Regions from separate parts of the Homo sapiens genome. Here region 1 is linked to region 2. A link means that fine-mapping ties the variant in region 2 to the expression of a gene that starts in the linked region. Tissue or cell type: subcutaneous fat. Region 2 holds a variant in brackets; the other region holds the start of a gene. All regions are shown on one strand. Distances are between the middles of the regions.

The links.
Region 1: CAMK1D starts here. The variant in region 2 is fine-mapped to the expression of CAMK1D in subcutaneous fat (GTEx, PIP above 0.99). The same link has a PIP of 0.9 or more in fibroblasts and visceral fat.

What each region holds. Positions count from the first base shown.
Region 1 is chr10:12,346,757-12,352,253 of GRCh38, forward strand. CAMK1D (calcium/calmodulin dependent protein kinase ID) reads left to right here and starts at 2,791. Exons shown (of 11, transcript NM_153498.4): 1 at 2,791-3,154. The coding sequence starts at 3,063. RefSeq lists silencers at 1,950-2,209, 2,250-2,809, 2,980-3,069 and enhancers at 3,106-3,605, 3,780-3,939.
Region 2 is chr10:12,415,647-12,420,646 of GRCh38, forward strand. All of the region lies in intron 1 of CAMK1D (calcium/calmodulin dependent protein kinase ID), which reads left to right. Among named protein-coding and RNA genes, the nearest start is that of CAMK1D, 69 kb to the left of the region's middle. The variant G/A (reference allele first, on the strand shown) is at 2,616.

The DNA of each region.
Region 1 (5,497 bases), 69 kb before region 2:
GCCTCTGCCTCTTAAAGTGCTGGCATTTTACAGGCGTGAGCTGCCACGCCTGGCCTCAATTTCATTTCTTTATCCATTCGACACACATTTACAGATCAGTCAGTATGGGTAGGTTACCGTGTCAGGTGCTGGGAAACAGTGGCGAGAAAGTTAACAGGTGCCTTGCTCTCATGGAGCTTATAGCCTGGTAGGAAAAGTCACGGCCACAGGCCACGTGGAAGTTCTCATTTGCTTTCCCTTCATCTTTACTGTTCCTGTAAAATTGCCTTCTTTCTTTTTTTCTAATGGTTATTTTTATAGATTTAGGGGTACAAGTGCAGTTTTGTTACATGGATATATTGCGTAGTGGTGAGGTCTGGGCTTTTAGCTTAACCATCACCAGAATAGGGTACACCATGCCCATTAGTTAATTTCTCATCCCTTCCCCTACCCCACTCCAATGTCATTATTCCACACTCTCTGTCCACATATACACATTATTTAGCTCCCACTTCTTCTCCTTTTTTTTTTTTTGAGATGGAGTCTTGCTCTGTCGCCAGGCTGGAGTGCAATGGTGCAATCTTCGCTCACTGCAACCTCCTAGGTTACAGTGATTCTCCTGCCTCAGCCTCCTGAGTAGCTGGGATTACAGGCATGTGCCACCATGCCTGGCTAATTTTTATTTTTAATAGAGTTTCACCATGTTGGCCAGGCTGGTCTTGAACTCCTGACCTCAGGTGATCCACTGGCCTAGGCCTCCCAAAGTGCTGGGATTACAGGCGTGAGCCACCATGCCTAGCCTTAGCTCTCACTTCTAAGTGAGAACATGTGGTATTTGACTTTCTGTTTCTGAGTTATTTCACCTAAGATAATGGCCTTCAGTTCCAACTGCGTTGCTGCAAAAGACATGATTTCATTCTTTTTTATGGCCGGGTAGTAGAGAATCAGCACTTCTTCAGCTGTGGGGATAATAGCTGAGAATGAGAATTGTTTTCATGAGCTCTGGCGGCTGTTCCTGAGGCCAGGCAGCAAGGGCAACATAGCAGAGAACCAAATAGGAAAAGAGGAGAAGGAAACACAGTGGGAGGAAGGGAAGGAGAAAGAAAGGACAAGAAGATGCTGACTGTAGGCATGAGAAAGCGACAGTTGGGATCTTAGTTGACTTATGCCCTGGTTCCCACTGTTTGTATTATCTAACCTTTGGCACAAGTAAAATACATGATAGTTTTTCAAATGTTTCTTATTGAAGGGGATGCTGTTTGCCTTGAACTTTGGTAATGTGCCTCAAGTATAAGAGAGGTTCCTTAGTAATTCTTCTCACCCATCCGTGTTGGAAATTGGGTTTGTGGATTTATTCTACATCTAACCGGCAAGTAAATCCCCTCTTTGCTCTTCTCAGTTTGGAAAACCTTAAGCTAACCGTCTTTGAAAGATGGAAACTAGCATGGAGGTCCCAGGAATGGGGATGCCAGGGTGTCGTCTGACCTCTTTAGGGTCAGAGTAGGGGCTGAGGGAGAGCAGCTGGGCTGCCTCCACTTCAGCCAGAGTCAGAACTAGGCACAAGGTGCTGGATGAAGTTTCCTATTCAGGGAGCAGATTTTTTTTTTCCTTTTACAGTGAAATTGGAACAGTCCTGGGAAAATGGGACAGGTGTCCCCAGTCAAGAGACAGAGCTGTTTACCCAACTACGAGGAGAGGCCCTGAGGGAGGCGAAGTGTTGATACCAAGAAATCTAAAATTTTCCGATCAAGAGGTCGCCCCTGCAGGTTGGGGACCAGGGAACTGGAGCACGTGGGCTGCCCTCTGACAGGTGGACACCAGGAGTGGGGCGGGCAGGCCAAAGTACAGCTGGGAGATGGGAGTCCGGAGGGAATTCTCTGGGTTAGTTTTGGCAGTCCATAGGAAAGCAGGTGCCTGCCCCGCAACCCGGACACCCTACTAAGCCAGCCGCGGGTGGGCTCCTCCTTCGAGGGGACTGCGGGGCAGACGATCACTTCTTTCCACTGAGTCTCTGGGAGGAGACAGGGAGATGCCAGAAGGGGCCAAGCGTGAGCCAGGGCAACCAGGCCGGCCAGGCCCGCCGGCCGCTCCAGCCCAGCACCAGGGCGCCCGCGCGGCTGCCAAACACCCCCGGGAGTTTTGCTCGCAAAGGGACCACGAGGCAGCTGCTGGCGCGTCCTGCGCGTACCCGCCCAGAGGCTCCCCGGCTTGCTCCTCGCGGGTCTGTCCCGAAACTGACGTGAAACCGATTTGGTGCAATGCGAATGAGCTCCCGCCCGCCTCCGCCTCCATCCCAGCCGCCGCCGCCGCCCGTCGCCATAACAACCGGCCCCCACCCCCCCCACCCCACGCCTTGCCCCTCGGGTCCCCCGGGCCACAGGCCACAGCGCGGGAAGGCGCCCCGCCCTCGGCGCCCCGCATCCGGCCGCCGCGCACCCCCGCCCGCCCGGCGCTTCCGAGCCACGCAGAGGCGCCCCCTCCCGCCGGAGACGGGAAAGCCCCGGCGCCCCCAGACTGGGCTCCGTTTCCAGCTCCCGGAGGGGCTGGGGCTCTCCCGCGTGCGCCCCGCACCTGCCGGGGGCCCGTACCCGCCCTCGCCGGGGCTCCAGGGGGCACGACGGCCGTGGCCCGGCGCTCTTGGGAGGGGAGCGGGACATCCCCGAAGGCGGCGCGCTGGAGGCGGGGAGCGGCCGGGGCGCACGGAGAGGGCGGGGAGCCCGCGGGAGGGGGAGGAGGGGGAGGAGGGGGAGGAGGCGCGAGGTGGGGGGGAGCGCGGCGGGCGGCAGGGAGGGAGCGGGAGGGAGGCAAGAAAGTAGCAGAAAGTGAGGCTGGCAGGCGGCGGCAAAGGAGCCGGCGCGCGGCGGCGGCAGGAAGTCTGTGCCCGAGAACAGCAGAAATAAGAGCCAGGGAGGGACCGCGGCCGCGGCGGCGGCGGCGAGAGCGAAAGAGGAAACTGCAGAGGAGGAAGCTGCGCCGCAGCCCGAGCCGCCCGGCATCCCCGCCGCCTCTGCGCCCGCGCCGCGCCCCCGGCGCCCCCTCCCCAGCGCGCCCCCGGCCGCTCCTCCGCGCCGCGCTCGTCGGCCATGGCCCGGGAGAACGGCGAGAGCAGCTCCTCCTGGAAAAAGCAAGCTGAAGACATCAAGAAGATCTTCGAGTTCAAAGAGACCCTCGGAACGTAAGTGGGGACCGGGGAGGCGAGGGTGGAGGTGGCCGCGGCAGGGGCTGCACGGGCAGCTCCAGCTGCCGCCGCCGCCACTACCGCGGCAGAAACCCAGCCTGTCACCGCGTCCTCATTGTCCCGTTCTCGGCGCTGCGGAGCCCCCCCGAGCGCGCCCGACGCGTGGGCCTGCGACCCCCGGGTGGGCGCCGTTCCCGGGAGGGGGAGGGGGCAGCGCCGGGCTGTCAGGGAGCAGCCCACGCGGGCGCGCGACTTCCCACTTCTCCTGCCACCGCCGCCCTCTCCGCTGCCTTCTCCCCACGCGTGACTGTGGGCTGAGCATGGTGGGGATGGCTGTTTACCGGCTGTGTGCGTTTACTCGCCGTGTGCATGGGCGCACCGCGTTGGCGAGACGTGGTCACGAGAAGATCAGCCTCCAGTCGTTCCCATTTCTGTCCTTACATCATGTATTTCTATGGAATTGGCATCTGCACGTACGAGGTGTAGGCAAGACTTTGGGTGGCCACGCGAGGATGGAAGGGAAGGGCTTCGCAGTGCTCAGGGTCACACGTGGGCAGAGCCTCACCGGAGGGTCTGTGCATTTCACGCGGGCTCGGCCGCACGCGCCGGGGAGCGCGTCTCCAAGGGAGGGTCTGTGCGCGTCGCTGCGCGGGCGGTGCTCTCTCCGGGCTGCATCGAGTCCCATGCTGATGGCTGTGTCTCAAGAAAGCAGAAATAATCCGAAGTCGATGGCAGGAACGCTCCAAGCATGTGCTGCTCAGCTCAGCTGCTGTTCCCTTTCTGCCCAGGAGTTGGGTCTTGTTTGTTTTGTTTCGGAGCGGCTCAGAATAGGTGGGGAGGCTGATAGTGAAAGAGAATCAGGACCTGCCGAATGAGTCTGAAGTTCAAGTTATTTCCTTCCCTCACACAATCAGTATTTGCTCTGCATCAGTATCTGTCAGTGTGGATTCACGCACAGGTGTGCAGTCAGAAATGCCCATTTTGCAGGGGTTCATGGAGGTGTTGATTAGGCTGGGAAGAGAAAGGGGAGCTATTTCATGGGATAAATCAGTGCGTTGTTGGGTGCCCTTTCTTTCCTTCCTCCTTTTTTTCCGTGTGCTTGTTTTTGTGCTTGGTTTCTTTTTTCCAGCACCACATTACCCAGCTTGTCTTCACCTCCAGGCTCGGCGTCTGCTGCTGTTCAGTCATTTCCCCTCACCCCCACGCAGATCTGCAGGGGGTCCCCCGGAGAGAAGTTGTGAGGGTGGCTTTCCCAGTCCTGCTTCTGATTCCCGGGAAGGCGCACGCTGAGGACTAGAGTGGGGTCTCCCTGCTGTGGTTGTTGCCTTTCAGGGAGGGCACCTATTTGCTATCTTTGTTGGAATGAAAACAGAAAAAGATGTAGCTTTTTAATAAATAGGGGTTTGGGGTTGCCTCTTAGTGCAGCCAGGTAAGGGGTTAGTTTGGGTCAAAACTTTTGAAAATTGCCACTGAGGTTTATTCGGGTTTGGGGTTGTGATTCTGAGATGCTCAAGTTACTGAGAGACAAGAAAGCATGGCCTTTGCTTGTCATCCAGGACCCGCACTGTGGCCGCCAATGAGGAGATGGGAGAGCATGGGGACCCACCCTGTGTGAATGCTTTCCTGTCCGTGGCTTGTTCCCACCCGAGCCCCCCACACTGGCTTCCTGCCTGTAGCCTCCGGGTGACTGATGCCCTGTCCCCTGACTGACTCGTGCAGCTGCACCTCTGCAGTGGCGGGGCTGCTGAGGCTCCAAGCTGTGGCTCCTGCTGGAGCATGGTGTTTGGAGATGACTGTGGGTGGTTTCCACCTTGGGGAAAAATGGGGATTTGCCCTCTGGTGCCAGAGCGCTTCTCTGGCAGAACAGCCTCTTGGACTCCAGCCATGTTCCCTGTGAGCTTTGGGAATGGGTCTCTCTTAGGGTCCTAAAGCATTGCCTTCTGCCTGGGATGGAATTCTTTGCAAAGGAGCTTCCCACTGTAGCACTGGCATTGGACCTAGAAGAATGATAGAAACAGTGTGATGATCAAGATGTTTTTACTCCACATAATAATCATGGTAATCATAGGTGGTATTCTGAAATGTATACCCAGGATCAGGTATTATTCTACGTGCCTTATGTGTATTAACTCATTTAAATCTCAGAGTAACCTTATGAGGTAGGTATTTACCATTACACCCAATTTGCAGATGAGAAAACTAAGGCAGCAGAGATAATTATGTGAGCTACCAAACCTTAGCTAACTATTAAGTGGCGGAGCTGGTATTCACAGATAGGCAGAGCAACTTTTGATTGTCCATACAGGGTTGACACACTTTGTAGATCCTGTAATGGCCAAT
Region 2 (5,000 bases):
CATGACTATTTTTCAAGGTCCTACTTCAAGATATTTTGTGTCATTATTCTAAAGTCAGTGCTAAGAAGTCACTTCCCTACGGAAGTGGATTAAAATTACGTTTTTTTTTTTTTGTCTTCTTTTAAAAAAAGATAGACATGGTTGATAATGAGATGGCTTTTTTTTTTCTTTTTTTCTGAGACAAGGTCTCGCTCTGTTGTCCAGGCTAGAGTGCGGTGGCACAATCACAGCCCATTGGAGCCTCGACCTCCTGGGCTCAAGTGATCCTTCAGCCTCAGTTTGAGCAGTTTGGCATATGTTCTGAATCTGAGGTTGATTATTATTCCTTTAGCGCTAGTATTACACTGAGACCTGGAAAAAAAGAAAAAAGAAAGCGAAAAACCATTCGCATTAGACTGTGGGCAGAAATATTTCTAACTATATGATTGTGGGTTAGTCTTGTGCTACGACGTGCAGTATTTCAGAATAAAAGGTGGTATATAGAATTCACTTTTTGGATATTATTCTTGTTTTTTTTTTAGCATCTACATTTTTTTTAGGAGATACAGAATAATCTCTTTAAAAAAACAGCGTTAACTATATTAATGGAGAAGTCGCTGGAAATGTCACTTCAGGTGGAAACATTTAGTGTGGATTTAACTTTTTATGGAATTATGCATGCAATGCCATTTGCATTTGCTGAGATTTTGTATTATTAATAGAATAGACAGATCAGCATTTTGTCGGTGTATGTAAAACTTTGCTTGTTTTTCCTGTCTTGATTGCTTGCTGGTTGCACATAAAATTTAGAGTTGGAAAAAGAGTGTAGCACAGAACAGGGGTTGGATGACTCAAGGGTCTCCGCTCCTGTCTCTGCTCTGCTGCAGCTCCGGCTGGAGGCCTTCATTTATAAACTGTCGGATGGGGCCAGGCCAAGAGTCCGTGCAGAAAAATCCCACAGTTGTGCCCTGGGGAAGCTGCTCATGGTGAAGGGCTTCATTTGCAGAGTGGAATTGCTGTAAGGCCGGGGTCTTGCTGAGCACCGGAGGGAGGGCTCTGACTAGCACTGGGCGGTGGAGAGAAGCAGAACTCACTTGCCATACTCTGTGTCAGTTTCCAGCAAGAGTGAAGTTCTGTTTTTCCGGTGGGTTCTGCCCTTTCCTTATCAGTTCAGCTGAGCTTACTCCAGGGCTTCCCCTTTGCTCCCAGCTTTCCAGGGCATGTTCTGCCAAAAATGAGCTTTGCCTTGGGTGTGTCTGATTGTGTTGTTGGTAGACTCCCTAAAAACCTTCCGGTGCTAGCGATGCTGTAGACGGCTGAGACCCATGGAGGTGGTTGTTAATTGTCACTGGGGGCCCGGGGTCACACTGCTTGGGCCTGCATCCCAGTTTAATGGTGGGACTTTGGACAAGGTTCCTCAAGCCCCCGAAGCCTCTCTGTCCTCATCTGTAAAATGGGGACAGTGGCAGTACTTGTCTCTCATAGAACATCCATGGGAGGAACTTACCTCAGTGCCTGGCATATAGCAAGTTTTCAAAAAATATTAGCTGTTAATATTATTTTTATTACCTAGACGCAGGATGATGGACCCTATGACCTTCTGAGTCTTCTTCCATCTGTGTGTGTATGTAAGACAGAAAAAGAGACTGAGAGAGAGAGAGAGAGACAAAGAACAGGAGAACTACACTGTGGATTTGGGTGATGCTCCAGGGAGGTTTGAACAGACTGTCAATGTCATGTTTTGAAGAGAGCAAGGAATTTTGGGGATACTGCTGTGCCAGAGAAAACAGGTTCGAGAGAAAGAAAACAGAGGCGGGATCCCTTACAGAGCAAGAGGTAACCAGGAGTTGTTTAGGTGGCATCCAGCCAGGGGAATTGCTCAGGGTTCTGCAGAGGGCAGCCTCTGGGGCTCCGGCTGGGGTGGGGAGATGGCTTGGCCCTGGGCTGTTGGCCTGGGAACTGGGGTTCAGCCACAGTTGAGTTCCAAGCCTCCTAGTGTTTCCTCTACCTCCTGGCTCCTTCAGAAATGAGGGCTGGGGGAGGCCCGAGGCTGGCCATCTGGGGAGCTGTGTAAGCAAGGAACACGGAGGTCCTGCGATGGAGTGGCTACACTCTTATGTGGAAGGCCAATGGGTAGTGGGCATCTCTATGCTCTTTATAACAGTAATAATTATTTTTTGCCTTTTTTTTTTTTGAGATGGAGCCTCACTCTGTCACCCAGGCTGGAGTGCAGTGGCATGATCTTGGCTCACTGCAACCTCCGCCTCCTGGGTTCAGGTGATTCTCCTGCCTCAGCCTCCCGAATAGCTGGGATTACAGGCGCCTGCCACCACACCCGGCTAATTTTTGTATTTTTAGTAGAGACGAGGTTTCACTATGTTGGCCAGGCTGGTCTCGAACTCCTGACCTCAAGGCCTCAAGAGGCCCGCCTTGGCCTCCCAAAGTGCTCACAAGAGTGAGCCACCACGCCTGGCCTCGATGCTCTTTAAAAGAAGCCCTCGCCCTGCCAGATGATGCAGTAAGCAAGAATGAATATGGATCCCCAGGGTGTGGGAGGAGAATGAATTACTTGGTAGGCCTCAGTCCAGCAGGTCAGATGAGGCAGAGAACATGCCATCAAAACATATGATTGCAAC[G/A]CGGCCATGCCTTGTGAAAGAAGAAAGCTTGGCCAGCTGTTGACTGATTAGAGATGGAGATGGGCTGGGCATCTGGCTCATGCATGTAATCCCAGCACTTTGGGAGGCTGAGATGGGAGGGTCACTTGAGGCCAGGAGTTCAAGAGCAGTCTGGGCAACATAGCCACATCCTCATTTCTACAAAAAATTTTAAAGAATTAGCTGGGCACCGTGGCATATGCCTGTAGTCCTAGCTACTGGGGAGGCTGAGGTGGGAGGATTGCTTGAACCTAGGAGTTTGAGGCTGCAGTGAGCTAGGATCATGCACTGCATTCCAGCTTGGGTGACAGAGCAAGACTCTCTCTTATTTTAAAAAAAGTTATGTATTGCACTCCAACTAGCAATGTGTGAGCATGACCTTCTTATCACATCCTTGCCAGTGATCAGCATTAAATTTTTTTTCTGATTTGCTAGTCCAAAATGAAACCTTTTAAAAAGTATTAAAACGAATGAAGGTATTACTAGAAAAGACTTGATCAGTCAGTTGAGCAAAGGTTCCAATTGCTGGGTGTGTCTGGGAGTTGCAGACCCCCACGTGGTGGGAGATGGGGAGTGACCGTCCACCCCTGCCGAGGGATGTCCTGCAGAGTGGCCATAGATGGAAGGCCTCAGCCGAGAGTGGCCATAGGTGGAAGGCCTCAGTCGCGGGCGTGGTGTGTCCGAAGCCGTTGCTCACAGAACACTTAAGAGCAGCTGCCTGTTTCAACATTGGTGCTTGACTTTCCCTATTGAATGAACTTCCCTGTCTCTTTTGGACCTCACATTCGGAAAGGTGTCTGAGAGGTCATCCGTTTCAAACTTCATCATCTCAAATGAATGGCATTCCCTCCTGCCTTTTAAAACCCCAGGGACGGGAGATTTTATAAGCTATAATGACTTTACCATATATTTTCCTCAAAACTCAACAGCCATGATCTCATGAATACTCACCCCTACTTTCTGCCCCTATGAAAAAAAAAATAAATAAAAGGCAAGAGTGAGAAAACCAAACTCAAGGAGGTGAGGTTGGGAGCCTGGGGCCACGGAACTCAAAGTTCCCAGAATAGAACTGGGTTATCCCGACACCTGTGAACACTGCGCAGTAACATTTTCCAATGTTGGGTAGCAACATTTTCCAAGTTACTATGAAAAATGGGGAAATACACGCGATAACCAGAGCCAAGTCCTGTTTCCTGACTTTTCCACAGCCTTTCTTGACAACATGCAGGGCACATATTAGACATGAGTCACCGCTGTGGTTTTCTTAGTGCATAAAATTGCACACCTCACTCCCCACCGGGCCTCAGTGGATTCTGAATGAAGCCAGAAAGTGATTCAGTCTTAGATCAGAAGAGAAAATGCACACACACACACACACACACACACACACGCAAAAATAGAGTTCTTGTTAACTTCTAGGTTGCAGAAAATACTGAGATTAGAAAAACTGTTTTTTCAGCTTCTTAGGACTTTGTATATGTTGGGTTTTCTCGTTAGGTTTTCTTTTGTAAATAAGTGGTTACCACAGTAGCTTTTCCACCAGAAACATGACTCTGGGTGGATCCTGTTGTCATAGTGATTTAATAAACTAAGTTGAGTTTTTTAGAATTTTTAGTAAGCAGTGAATAATTAGATAGAATACTTTTTTCAGCCTTAGTGAAAAATGACATCTATGTAACTTTTTTTTTTTTTTCTCTTGAGACAGAGTCTTGCTCTGTCGCCCAGGCTGAAGCACAGTGTCGAGCTCTCGGCTCACTGCAAGCTCCGCCTCCCGGGTTCACGCCATTCTCCTGCCTCAGCCTCCCGAGTAGCTGGGACTACAGGTGCCTGTCACCACGCCCAGCTAATTTTTATATTTTTAGTAGAGACAGGGTTTCATCTTGTTGACCAGGTTGGTCTTGAACTCCTGACCTTGTGATCTGTCCGTCTCGGCCTCCCAAAGTGCTGGGATTAGAGGCGTGAGCCACCACGCCTGGCCCATGTCTATGTAACTTTAAAAAATACGGTATTTTAGTGATAGAGCTGGTGGCAGCTGATGTAGTAGTAGTAGTCCTTTTCATATTACCCTTGATGGTCCACTTCAAATGAATGAACTTTAATGATTTTACTTTAATAGTTCTTACTACTTTATGAATTATTTTGTTTTGTTTTCATAACTCCAACAAGGCATTATTGGCAGTGGATTTTATGGCTTAGTAAGATCTTGAGGTAACTGAGGTTTACTAATTAACCCTTATTGATTTGTTTGGGACTTTTTGGTGGACACCTTAGTCAAATATACTCTTTTTTTTTTAATTGTCTAGAAAAATGGAATGTGCCCCCAAACTACTTAGGGATTCTGCATATTTCTAACAGCCTCTGTCTTGC